2 linked regions of the Homo sapiens genome follow. The gene in region 1 interacts genetically with each later gene. Each region holds a gene or a part of one and is shown on either strand. Other genes may lie near its edges.

Region 1 (3,600 bases):
TTCTTTAAATGACGGAGACACGATGATTTACGTAACGCCAAGGCAACATCTGTCTTGTACAACAGGAAGCGCTGCCACACCTCGCAAGAGAAACTGTCACCTTATGGGGAGAACAGTCCCACCTCGCTACAGAACTCTCTTGTTAGAGGGGTTACCAGGAGCATCCAACTTTCTCGACAACGAAAACCTCCTCCCCCAAATGGCGCTAGCCCTGGGGGCAAAGGTGTACCAGAACCCTGCGGGGAACCATCTCCCCACCCGCCAAACCAGAAACGCAGTCGGTGATGTCAGCCCTGCACGCCGAGGAGGAAGGGGCTGTGGAAAACACACCCAGCGAGGCGCACAGTCGCATCTGGCAATCTAGAGGCTGCAGAGAAAGCAGAAACGTGGAGGGCATCTCTCTGCGGACTGGAAGTGGCGCGGGGCGAGGGACCGGGCAGGGCGCGTGCCCGGGGGCAGGCGTGGGGGGGAAGGCGGCCCCCGAGCGGGCGTCTGGACGCCGCCCCTCCTCGGCCAGGAGGGTCACCACCCCCGGCCCCCGCGCACCAGGGCTGAGGCCAAGGCCACCCGCACCTCCCACCCGCTTCTGCTCCCCCAGGCGACGAGCCCGCGGCGCCGCCGCCTCCTCCCGGAGCAGAAACTTTGCGTCTCTAATGGAAACCAAGCCGCGCGCCAGTTCCCTCCTCCCCCGCCGCCCCCCCCCCCCGCCCCAATTAGCGCGAGCCCAGCGCCTCCCGCGGGAAGTGCCTCCTGGTGCACCGAGGCTCACGCCCGCCCGCACTGCTGCACTGGGTGGGGGGCCGCAGGGTGCGAAAGCGGCAGGAACAAGCCACGGCCACACCGCAGGGCCCCGCCCGGGCGCAGGGCGGCCCGGCCGCCGCTTCCGCCCTCTCCGCCCCCAACCCCTCGCCTTCCTGCCCCCAACCCCACCCTTCCCCGGCTCCTTCCTTCCCAGCCCACGCCCGCGCCGCGCCCCCCGGGAAGAAGGAGGGGAGAGCGACCGAGGGAGGGCGCCCAGCAGGGCCGGCCAAAGTGGGGAGGTGGCGGGCGCTGACTGCGCCCCTCAACACCCGGCCGGAACAATGTGCGCCACCGGCCAGCTCCAGCCCATTCATTCTCCACTGCCCGCCCGACCTGCCACCTTCGCGCCGGCGGAGAAGCGGGGTGGGGAGGGGCGGGCCGGGGGGGGGGGTCTAGTGCCCGGCCCCGCCCGGCTCCCAGGCCGAAACGCTGCGCTGCAGGCAGCCCGGGTGCGGCGCTAGTGGATGCAGTGGGTGCGGGGCTGGGCGGGGGGCAGGGGGATTGGATGCAGAAACCCCCGCTGCAGTTGCGGCCGGAGCCCCTGCCCGTGGACGGCCTACGACCAAGTCCAGCTCCAAGGGGAACCAATAAATGAAGCTCCCTGGCAGAGGTCGCCGAGATGCAAATCCAAAATGCAACCTCCTTTAAGCGCAGCTGCTGCGTAACACTCAGAAAAGAAAAACCTCCAAGAACCAAAAACAAACAAAAAACAAACAAAACAACTAGAAATCTGGGAAGAAATCTCGGGCAGCTGCTACGCCGGCATTTGCCACTCCCGACCTACCATGGTGCGAGCGAAGGGAGGAAGAGCAGAGGGAGCGAGGGTGGCTGCACCAGCGCGGGGGCTGCGACGGCGGGGGTACCTCCGATGCCGCTGCTGCTGCTGCTGCTGCTAAGGCGCGCTGTGCGCTATGCCGCCGCCGCCGCCTGCGCCGCCGCCTGACTACGAGTAACGGCACGGCGTCCACGACACTCCCAGCACCACTGCCGGAGCGCGAGTCTGCGCCCCGCGATATATATATGGTGCGCCGTATCCCTCCGCCGCGGCGGAGCCGCCTCGCGCAGAGCGGCGCTGCGGCAGCCGGGCCTTGCCCGCCTGGTCCCGCCCCCGGGTTCGCCAGGCCTCCCGCCGCCCCCTGCGCGCCAGTCGCGGCGGCCCTACGCTGGGTCGGGGAAGCGTTCTAGGCTGGGCGCGCGGTCTCGGGTCAGGTGTGGCGGGGAGTCCTCAGGAGACGCCCACCCTGGGCGGGGGCGAAGACAGAGCGCCTGCTTAGTCCAACCTGGGGGCGGCCCAGAGCTTCGGAAGCCGTTCACTCCGCTACCTACCCCAGCCTCACCCCACCTGGGTGACCCTCCCACCTCAACATCTCCAACCGCTCCACTAGGGCTGCCGGCTCCCGCGTGCCCCTCGTCCTTGGGTCTGCAGCGGCCACTTCCAGTTTGGGGTGCTGCAGGAGGTCCTGAGAGTAGGGGGTCCGCGGGGAGGTGGAGGCAGATTGGCCACACTCCTTCAGCTGCCGAGGAGAGGGGTCTGCAGAGGACGAGGTAGTTGTCCTCCTGGAAGAAATTGGTCCTCTTCGGATTTTGGAGCAGTATCCGAGTCAAATTATTTATGCTCAGTTGCTAAATCTGTGTCATGCTGCGATGTTTAATCAGTCTTTAATGTTTTTACGTTTCCACTGAATATTTTTTAGGATGCCTGAATATTTCTCCCCTACTATTTTGTTCTTTTTCCTGGCGCCCGTCTTACTAAAATTAGTGTACCTGTGCAGCTTCTACAGACCTTAAACCCAGGCTTTAAATTTTTCGTAATTTTCCTGATCCTGAGAAGGGTCAGAGTCTTTATTCATAAATCCATAGAAACAAGGGAAAAAATAGATGCTTCAAATCCTCTGCATTACAAGTGGAACACACAGCCAATTGCCTCTCTTATGGAGCTAGATTGTATTTTAAACTACAGTTTTGATTATATTCCTTTTAAAAGACTATTTAAATCTTTAAATATACTAGTGTTTTCCATTTTTTATTATATTCCTTTTAAAATAATATTTAAATCTTTAAGTTTACTAGTGTTTTCCATTTTTCTGTAAAGTAGAGAAAGAACAATTTCAGCCAGTAATGTGAACCCCAGGACTTGTAAAAATCTAGACAAAATGCTGCAGTTTCTTTTCTTGCCAAGGCAGAACACAGAATTTGATCTTCTGTTTTACAGGGCCCGGGCAACAGTTGGAGGTTATCATTTGCTTACTGTTTCACAGAATATGGCAAAGTGTGTGATTAACATGCTGTGCTAGAAAGGGCTTTGCTTGCTTGTGTTTGTTTCTGCTTTCAACAAAGTCTGCAGGAATATGTTTTTTAAAAAAGGAAAAATGTACAGGCACATTGCAAATGCCACAGGACTTCTTGGGATAACCTTAGACAAGACGTCAGCATCTGTGGAGCTGTTCCTACTGATGTTCCTTCTGGAATGCCGCAGAAAGAGTGAACCTGCTGTTTAATTTAAAGAGAGGCTGCAGCAGCAAGCCAGGGGATGCTGCCTTCCCTCTGCAGATTAGAAAGACACTATTCACTTCACAAACCTGATCCTAATCCCTGCAAAAAAATAATAATAATACTCCTGGGCTCATAGGGGAAAACCTGAGTAGGAATAAAGCGTGCATACTAATGCGAGAGTTGGAGATAAGGAAATAGAAGAAAAGGGACTAATACAAATTAATTTTAAAGAATATGCAATAATCCAGTCAGTTACAAGCCTAAATGGCCAAACTCCTTATTAAAACTGCATCTTGGCCGGGCGCG
Region 2 (3,821 bases), on another chromosome or scaffold:
CAAGGCCTCCCCTTGGATGTACACATTGACTACTAGGCCTAAAGTGACTTAGTTGTTTTGCAAGCTAATGGTAAATAAAGCTCGCGCTGCTGCCTAAACGCTTTGGAAAACTTCCTCATGGCAATTCAGCACTGTGCTTCACATCAGCCGCAGAAAGGTGTTTTGGGGTTTTTTTTTTTTGTTTTATAACGCCCACTTCCTTTAACAAGTGAAACAAGTAAAAAATAAACAAATGAAAGAAAAGGGGAGACAGGAAGAAGGGGGGAAAGAAGACAAGGAGGGCAGGAAAGAAGAGGAGAGACGCACTCCCATGCTCAGAGCCCCATGGCCACACAGGGTCCCTGCCCAGGTGACGCGGCCGCTCAGGAGCACGGAGGCTTCTCACCAACTGCGTCAGGAAAACACCAGGACCACCTGGGGAAGATAAAACTTTTTTTCTTTAAATAAATCTATAAAGTAAAACACTGTTACAAGGGGAAAAGAAAGCCCCACTTTATGTATTTGGTTGCCCATGGTTTTAGGAGCATCTAATCTAATTTCAACTGAACTCCTAATGAACTAGTCATGCACAGATGAGTCTGCTTCAGCCCCTGTCTCCTCCATTCCAGGGGCTTCTGGAAATGGGCCTCTTCTACATACAGTTTAAAGCAGAGCTGGGTGGACTGTTAGAGGTAGGTTACAGGAGGAATAAAGACCCATCTTCAGAGGAGGTCTCAGCACCACGACATGGGAGCACCTCTCAGGACAAACGATAACTTGAGCGGCATTAACGCTGAAACGAAGCACCCCTTGCAGCGTCTGTCGCTGGTGCCTGCAGATGGCCTGCGCTGCACTTGGGTCATGCCGCACCCAACAGGAGTCAGAAGGTGACTCGCCACTATGGCCGTCTACTCACATGCAACAGTCCATGCAGAGGGCAGCTGGGGGTGTGCATTCGGAGGCTTTGGGATAGAAAGCAGGGGAATAACACTAAGGGCAGGGGACAAGAGTCAGCAGAGAACACGCCAGGGAGCCACAAGGGAAAACTGCTTAAGAAAACACTGAAGACTTAAGAAACTTTAGTGACTTGAAACCACTGGAGTTCACAACACTAAAATACAGGTTTAGGACTGAAGTGTCTTTTTGTGCATGAAGTATTAAGAGTCCCTGAATATAATTTGAATTAAATAAGAAGAGCTCCTATTTGTAGGTTAATACATGTAAATTATTGTATATTTTTGCTATATACGGAGATATACTGGAACTACTGCGGAGTTACATTACATCTTAAGCAGTTTCAAGCAGATAGTATTATCCGAATTTTAGTAATGCATTCAGTGGACTTAGGTTCAGACTACAAGAAAGTGAATAAGGAAGGTTCGCTTTACACCTGGGTCAGAAAGGCTGGATTCCCAAAGCCTCCGAAGCCCCAGCTACCCAACTTGCTCTACGTCATCTAACTATGAACAGTAAGGTAGGCACAGACCAAGCAGTTGGTAATACAGCTTGGCACGCAGACACCGGACGAGAGAGACTGCAGCAAGGGTTTCACGTGATCGTGTGTAATGTTCGTCCACACCTTAGTCTTCGACTTGGGACTGCTTCCATTCTGCCCTTCCTCGGAAGCTTCGTCGCCCCGGCCAGAGTTCAGCCATCTTGTCTTCTCCCGCTGCTGCTTCTGAAAACTGTGTCTGAGTGGGGAGCAAGTGCCCGAATCACCGTCACTAGCAAAGGAGTAACCTGTGACACTAGCAGGAACCTCCACATCGCTGTATTTTTTAGACTTCTCTCTCAGAGCAGGGTATCGATAAGGGTAGCCAGTTCTGTAGCCCTAGGGTCCAAGGAGAGTGAAAGACAGTCAATATTCCAGATCTCAAAACAGGGTTTCACTTTGGAAAATCATGTGGAAACATCCACAAAAGTTGAACACATGCATACCCTATGACTCAGTAATTCCACTCCTAATTTTACACCCCACAGAAGCAAATGTGTTCACCAAAAACCAGGTACTAAAATGTGGACAGCAACCCTACTCCTCGTAAACCACAATTGGAAACAACCCAAAAGTCCATCCATATAGGAGATGGATAGTCTAGTGTCTTCATAAGAAGGCTTATAGTGACACAATGTGCTCTAAACCAACCACGTGGATGACTCTCCTGAAGGCAACGCTGAGTGAAAGAGACCAACCTGCAAAGAACATACACCATGTAATACCATTCATTAAAAGTGCAGAAGATGCAAAACAACCTTTGTTTTGGTTGTCCTGGGAGACAGGACAGTTGTCACCCCTGGGATGGGACAAGTGAACTGAAGGAGGTGCTGGGGGTGTTCTGAGGTGCTGCTACCGTTGCTCTTATTGACTGCTGGTTATACAGGGGGTTCAGTTTTTAAAAATGAACAAACTGAACACTTGCGGTAGGTGCACTCTCCTGCTTACATATTTCAACAAAAAATTAAAGTTGAACACCCAAACAGGGTTTACTTGCTGCCAGCCACTGTGCAGGTTATATTCATCAACATACTTAATAGACTTTTACCTCTTAAGTTACAGTTTAAATACTGTGATAATCTTTAGGTAAGTAAGGTAAGTAAGTATACCTCATGACAACTGGTTCTCAGCAAAATTACTTTACGTCTGAATACAACAACATTCAAATTCACCTCCAGCTCTGCCTCATGACCATGTGCTCTGTGGTAAAAGACAGCCCCACTTACTTCATGCCTCTACTGGACCAACTCATCTGCAGAGTCCTCCCACAGACAGCATCTCTAAGGGCATGGACGGTGTCCTCTGCATCTCTCCTGGCCACACTTGGTAAGTGTGACAGACAGACTTCACAGTGGCCCCAGGCCCCCAGCTCCTGTAATCCCCTCCCACCTTGAGCACAGGTGAGATCTCTGACTTGCTTCTAAGTAGCGGAATTCACAAAAGGTGATGATGGGCTGTATCACAGAAGAGTTTAGCACCTATCTTATAAGAGTCTCTGTCTCTACTGCTGGCTCTGAAGAAGTAAAGCTGCCAAGAATGCTTCAGCCCTAAGAAAAGGAATTCTGTCCCCAGTCTAGAAGAGCCTGGATGTGGATCCTCTGAGTCAAGTCTCCTGATGAGAACCCAGCCCTAGCCAACACCCTGAATGCAGCCTTTATGAGACCCTAGGTTGAGTTCGCTGTGCCTGGACTCCTGCCCCACAGAAGCTAGGAAATAAATGGCTGCTGTTCGAAGCCACCAGGCCTGTAGTGATTTGTTGCCCAGCACAGAGAGGTAATACGGGGGATGCTGAAGAGCTGTCTGCTCAACAACCTAACAGATTCGCACCTGAACCAAGTCACTCACAGCACCTTCACAATACATCACAAGAGAATCAGGACTTGGAGGGACTGCACAGGGTCAGACATACAAGACACTTCAGTGGCCTGTGCCCTGCTGGCTGTGGTACTCTAGAAACAGTCCTCTCAATTCAGAATTCTCTCTCCCCTCTGGGTACTGCTCTTTTTTGGGGGCCATCTTCATTACTAATCACTCTTTCAATATTTTTTTTATTTTTTTAATTTAATTTTTTTTTTTTGAGACAGAGTCTCACTCCATTGCCCAGGCTGGAGTGCAGTGGCGCCATCTTGGCTCACTGCAACCTCCGCCTCCCAGGTTCACACTATTCTCCTGCCTCAGCCTCCTGAATAGCTGGGACCACAGGCACGTGCCACCACACCCGGCTAATTTTTTGCATTTTTAGTAGAGACGGAGTTTCACTGTATTAGCCAGGACGGTCTCAATCTCCTGACCTCATGACCCACCTGCCTCAGCCTCCCAAAGTGCTGGGATTATAGATATGAGCCACCAC

The links. A genetic interaction does not mean that the proteins touch.
Region 2: of CALM1 (region 1) and ADD1, changing one suppresses a phenotype caused by changing the other (phenotypic suppression), as found in Homo sapiens cells (one study listed by BioGRID).

What each region holds. Positions count from the first base shown.
Region 1 is NC_000014.9:90,395,219-90,398,818, reverse strand, and holds the start of CALM1 (calmodulin-1), read right to left. Parts: upstream 1,791-3,600; 5' UTR 1,589-1,790; coding exon 1,586-1,588; intron 653-1,585; exon of another isoform or gene 1-652. UniProt on the Homo sapiens protein: Calmodulin acts as part of a calcium signal transduction pathway by mediating the control of a large number of enzymes, ion channels, aquaporins and other proteins through calcium-binding. Calcium-binding is required for the activation of calmodulin.
Region 2 is NC_000004.12:2,902,753-2,906,573, reverse strand, and holds part of ADD1 (alpha-adducin), read right to left. Parts: intron 1,811-3,821; coding exon 1,466-1,810; intron 1-1,465. UniProt on the Homo sapiens protein: Membrane-cytoskeleton-associated protein that promotes the assembly of the spectrin-actin network. Binds to calmodulin.